2 separate regions of the Homo sapiens genome follow, and region 2 is linked to region 1. The links come from fine-mapping of genetic effects on gene expression. A gene starts in region 1. The other region holds a variant in brackets. All regions are shown on one strand. Distances are from middle to middle.

Region 1 (2,896 bases):
CCTCCCCCAGTCACACACACACACACACACACACACACACACACACACACACACACACACACGCACTTCAGTCCTCTCCCAGGAAGCTGGCTCAGCCTCAGCCCCGGCTCCCGCCCAGCTCTCCAGCCCTCCCGGCCGGGGCACTCACCGGCTGACGGGATCCCCGCGGGCAGGATGGCTCCTGGGGGACGCGCCGGGGGCAGGGGGCAGTTTTGTAACCCCGGCTGGGGGCGCTCCGGAGAGGGGGCGGGGCCAGGGACGGCCGATCCGCGCGCACCCGCCCCAAGCGGGCGATTAAATCATTAACCGACCGCTCCCGCCTGCGATCCCGCTGAGCGCGCTGAGCTCGGGGCGCACTAGCCCAGGAGCGGCCGTCTCCCCGGCTCCAAGGGGGCGGGTGGCTCGACTGCCCTCCCCCCGCACCCCGCCAGGAGGCGCCTCGGCCTCCCGGGCTTCCGAGGGAGCGGGCGGGGCGGGAGCCTGGCGGGGGAGGGAAGGGTTCGCGGGGCGGGAGTAGGGGAAAGGAGGACCATTTGTTCCTTCGGCCATTCCCTTCCAGACAGCTCCTTCCCTCTGGCTTCCCGGCCGGGTGACATTGGGTGGCGTGTGCTGCAGTGTGTGTACGAGAGCGAGATGTGTACACGCCTCTGCCCGTACAGGCGGAGAATTCGGTTCTTATTCATGGAGAACTCCGGGCGCACACACGCCCCCCTCGCGGAGATCGCGGGCCGCGCGCCGCCGATTGCTGCGCTCCTGCCCACACCGACACACACCCCATTCCTGGGAAGGGGGAGGCCCTTTAAAACCGGCCCCCAACCCCCTCAGCGGCACCCTTGGCCAGGGCCGGGAGTTCCAGCGTGGAGAGAGGAAATGGAGTCCCGGCAACGCTGCGCCCGGCTCCCTGCCACCTCCTCCTCCACACATCCCGCTCTGCCAGGACACTAGGTGCGCAGCTTAGGGTCCCAGGCACCGCGGTGGGCGCGGTGAAAAGCGCGAGCGCCGAGAAGTGGGGGCTCCGCGCCCTTCTCCCCGCGCCGCGGCCTCGCATCCCCAGCTTCGATCCTCTCTGCCCCACAGGGGGACTCGAGACCCCCAAGCCCACCCAGGGCACCCAGCGCGAAGGCGGCTACCACAGACAGAGGCGGTTGCCCGTCGCCTACCTCGGTCCCCGGAGACCCGAGCTCTGGGCCGGCTGCGCTGTCCCCTTCGTGGGCTCCGCGCGGCGGAGGGGCTGGCGGCCCCTGTCAGCGCCGGCGTTTGTTTCCCTCTGGCTCTCGGGCTTTCAGGGCTGGGAGCCTCCAGGACACTCCCCTTCCAGGCTCCGCCCGCGCCCGCCCCGCGCAACCCTCCCCGCGCACCCCTCTGCGCTGATGTCACGGCGCCGCAGCAGCCAATGGCCGTCGGGAACCTCTGCCCGACTGCTCGGCCTCCTCGGTTCAAACTGAAAGCCTGAGACTTTCCCAACTCCGTATGGGGCAGCCTGGGCCCGCCCGGCTTCCGGGAGACACTCCCGCCCCAGCCTGCGCTCCGGCCGCGAACCCCCACTGGGGCCCCCAGGGCCAGGGGCGCGTCTCCCTCCGGGGGCCTGGCGCGAGGCTCTTTTGAGGCTCTTCCCCATTCGAGCCGGGGCAAGAAACCAAGAACTCCAGCCCGGGTGGCGTTCCTCGTTCCTGCTCCCTCCCGGACCTGCTAACCACCTGGCTGCAGTACTGTCGGGAGATGGGGCAGGAGGGCTGGCGCCACCAGCTTCGTGGGTGCCATCCCAGACTCTCGCTGTAAACGAGGGAGCGGGGAGGAGCCGGCCAGCCCCGAGGCCAGGCTTGGACTGGGCGTCAGAAATGTTTCTACAGGGTGACAGCCCTTGAGCTCCCCGCATCCCCGTCTGTGCCTTTGCCTCCTAAGTATCAGCTGAGGCTAAATTTGCACCAGGTGAACGTCAAGGAGGATCAACTCCTGAGTCCCAGAGCCTGAATCCAAGTCCCAGGCCTTGGACTCTATTCTTTTTAGAGGAATAGTTTCAGTTGAAATGATCATTATCAAGGTAGAATGCCAGCTGCGAAGTAGTCAACTAAAGTGGACAAGGCGCAAAGTGAAAAGTTCCCTTGCCTCTAGCTGAACCCCACCCTCGGTTTTTAAAGGAAGTGAGGGTGAAGGCCCCAGACTTTCCCCATGGCTGCGAGGTCCCTAAGCCCTCAGGAACATTCTGCTTTCTGGGGACAGCACATTTCCGTTTCCCTCTGCAGTGCGACAGCAACCAGCTCTTGAGAGCTAATGGTTTGGCCACTCCATCCTGCTGTGAAAATTAAGTTCTGGGCTGGGCGCAGTGGCTCATGCCTGTAATCCTAGCATTTTGGGAGGCCAAGGCAGGTGGGGGGTCACTTGAGGTCAGAAGTTTGAGACCAGCCTGGCCAACATGGCGAAACCCCATCTCTACCAAAAATACAAAAATTAGTCGGGCATGGTGGTGGGCGCCTGTAATCCCAGCTACCCAGGAGGCTGAGGCGGGACAATCGCTTGAACCTGGGAGGTGGAGGTTGCAGTGAGCCGAGATCGCGCTATTGCACTCTAGCCTGGGTGACAGAGGTAGACTCCATCTCAAAAAAAAAAATAAATGAATAATAAGTAAAATCAAATTCTGAACTGGACATCTGGAGGGAAAGGTAGGGTTTGGAGCCACTTGGGAGGCAGACACTGTGGATTCAAACCCTGGCGGGGTTATCATGGATGTAAACCAAAAAGTGACTAAGGCAGATCTCAATCAAATAGAGGTTTAGTTAGCCAAGGTTGAGGATCCACCGGGGAAAAATCACCTTTTTTCCAAAAAGGTTTTGGGAACTTCTGTATTTAAAAGAGAAAAAGCAAGCAGGAAAGGAAAAGAAGAGGGAGAGAGGGAGGA
Region 2 (2,896 bases), 22 kb before region 1:
CATACCGCTTATCATTCCAGCAAACACAAAGTTCTCTCGGGCAGGGAGGGGGAGCCAGGCACCTGGCAGACTTGCCACACAGTGACGTGGGCGAGGACGTGAGGGATGCCTTGAGATGATACTCTACTCTGGGTCATAGGTCAGCTCTCTCTCCTCCCTACCCTTAGGAAAGTGACCTTCCCCTAACTCTAACTTGGATTATCTCTGGGCCCCACCCTCCTGCCCCACCTCAACCTCTAAACAATTAGACATTGAACCGCTAGACCAAAGGTCAGCAAACACTTTTTGCAAAGGGCCAGAGAGTAAATATTCTCGGCCTTGTGGCTGATAGGGTTTTTGTCACAGCTACTCAACTGTCTTCTTAGTATAAAACTAGCCGTTGGCCGGGCACAGTGGGTCACAACTGTAATCCCAGCACTCTGGGAGGCTACGGCAGGAGGATCAGTTGAGCCCAGGAGTTCCAGACCAGCCTGGGCAACACGGTGAGACCCCATCTCTACACAAAATCAAAAAAAGAAAGAAAGGAGCCATAGCAACATGTAAACAAGTAGGCATGGCTATGTTCCAATAACATTTTATTTACAGACAACTTCTGGGTTGGTGAGCAGATCGAGGTGCCAGGAAGGTGGTGCGTGCCCTGCCCCCCACCCCAACACTTGACCCCACGCATCCTCATGCAGCTCTTCCGTTTGGCTGTTCCTGAGTCGTATCTTTTGTAATAAACCAGTAAAAGAAAAAAAACCACCAAAAAGCCACATCTTTATTTACAAAAGCAAACGCAGGCTGGGTTTGGCCCATGGACTGTAGTTTGCTGACTCCTGAATATCATATATGACCCTCTTGGCCAGCCATGGGCTCCTAGGCAAAACTCTGAAGAAAACAGGAAGGGAGGAAGGGAGGGAGGGAGGAAGGGAGGGAGGAAGGGAGGGGAAGGAAAGGAAGGAAGGAAAGGAAATAAGGAAAGAAAAAAAGAAAGAGAGAAAGAAAAAGAAAGGAAAGAAGGAAAGGAAAGGAAGAGAAGAAAGGAAGAAAGGAAAAGAAAAGCAAGGAAGGAAAGAAAGAGAAAAAGAAGCAGCAGAAGAAAAGAAAAAGAAAAAGAGAAGGTAGACTCTGCCTCAGTCACGTTGGGCATAGAAGGGAAAAAGGCCAAGCTTCAAACGAACTCTCGTTCCTGGCAAATCCTTCAGGCTTCTACTGCCACCAGCAGGGACACCAGTCAGGAACGGAGGGGACCCCATCTTCCACCTGCCTGCACCCCGACTCCTGGCTCTACGCACAGCATCCAGGAATCTCAAAGAACTGGAGGGGATATTCAGTGCAGCACTTTCACTTTATGGATGAGGAAACAAGTTTATTGAAGGAAAGTGATTTATCCAGGTTTTTAGCCCAAAGCAACAGAGCTGGGCTAGAAACTGGGTCTTTGAGTCCAGAGCTCTCTCCGCTCCACTCCAGGCCCTTCTCCAGCTCTGGCGGCGGCATTGCTGGTCAGTGACCACCGACCACTGAGTGCTCCTCCCCACTGCTGGCCGGCAGGGTACAGAGAAGGGGGTACCCAACAGCTGCTTCAAGAAGGTTCTTGTGTAATCCTAGAGCAGGTTCCACACTGTTGCTATTTGGGCCAGATAATTTCTCATCGGGAGGTGGACCTGCCCTGTGCACTGTAGGATATTCAGCAGCATCCCTGGTCTCTACCCATTAGATGCCAGTAGCATCCACCCCCCAGTCACAACAAGCAAAACTGTCTCAAGATATTGCCCAATGTCCCCCAGGAGGCAAAACTGCCCCAGTTGAGAAAC[A/G]GCAGCCTTGAGTGAGAACACACAGGTGAAGATAGAGCAGGTATGCTCACCAGGTAAACAACAAAGACAGAGAAGCAGGGAGGCGGGTGTGGATGGTCAGAACCGGGTGAGAACATGGCGGCACGAGCCCCCAGAGCTGCGTTAAGGGTTTCAACGCCAAGGCAGGAACCCCCAGACCCTGTGAGTGATGTCAGGTCCTGTGGTTTCCCGATCTTATACGCTCATTAGAGAGGAAAGAAAGGGAAACCACAGACCCGGCTCCCCAGGACTCACCAGAGAAGCTGCAGGTCACTGTGGCTGCCCAAAGGGACCAAATATCCTGGCCATGATGGCTACAGGGGAGGACAGCTCCCCGCATCCCATTAGCCACACCACCCAGCACATCCTTGCGGGTAGAACTATTGAGGTAGGTCAGAGGGGACAGCAGGGAAACTCAGCTGAAATCACGGCCATCCTGGGCTAGCCCTGGGGTCCCCAGGATCTTGTTCAACCCCACACCCCAGAAAGACAGGGACAGGTCTACCCAGTGCTGCCTGCTGCCACGGTCTCGCTTCCTGGGGGGTTGGGAACGAGACTTTGTGGCTTGTAGAAAGCCATCTTCAATAACCAGCAAGGAAGGGTCCTGAGAGAGTTGGGGCCTAGAGGGAGTCACGCATCTGTCCCACTGCCCCAGCGAGGAGGGGGCTGCAGTACCTGGCAGTCCACACTGGGGATGAGGCCTGGGTGTCTGGAGCTCAGACTAGACAGGCCACCCAGCAGGATTGAGGGTCAGCAACAGCTTGGTTTCACCAGCCTTGAGTGACCTTGAGTCACTCTGAGCTTCTAACAGAGAACAGTTTGGAGGTGACGAGCTGGATCATAGAGTTTAAGAGAAAGTAGGTGGTGGGAGTCTCGCCAGAGGCCTGGGCAGGTCCTGGGGGCAGCTATGGTTTGGGAGGCCACAGGGCATTGTGGCTTTGGGCGGGGCTTTCAGAAGCATGGTGACTCAGCTCTGGGGAAGTGGCTAAAATAGGCTGCCCAACGTGGGGCAGGCACTCCCCATAGCCTGCCTTGGGCGGGACACCCCCACCCCACCCCAGAAACCACATCCCACTTTCTTG

The links.
Region 2: its variant is fine-mapped to the expression of CDC42EP4 in whole blood (TOPMed, PIP above 0.99).

Annotation. Positions count from the first base shown.
Region 1 is chr17:73,310,733-73,313,628 of GRCh38, forward strand. It overlaps CDC42EP4 (CDC42 effector protein 4), which reads right to left and starts at 1,269. Exons shown (of 2, transcript NM_012121.5): 1 at 1,161-1,269. RefSeq lists silencers at 18-147, 158-707, 1,158-1,417, 1,488-1,647.
Region 2 is chr17:73,288,835-73,291,730 of GRCh38, forward strand. All of the region lies in intron 1 of CDC42EP4 (CDC42 effector protein 4), which reads right to left. Among named protein-coding and RNA genes, the nearest start is that of CDC42EP4, 22 kb to the right of the region's middle. RefSeq lists enhancers at 2,092-2,311, 2,602-2,681, 2,656-2,896. The variant A/G (reference allele first, on the strand shown) is at 1,797.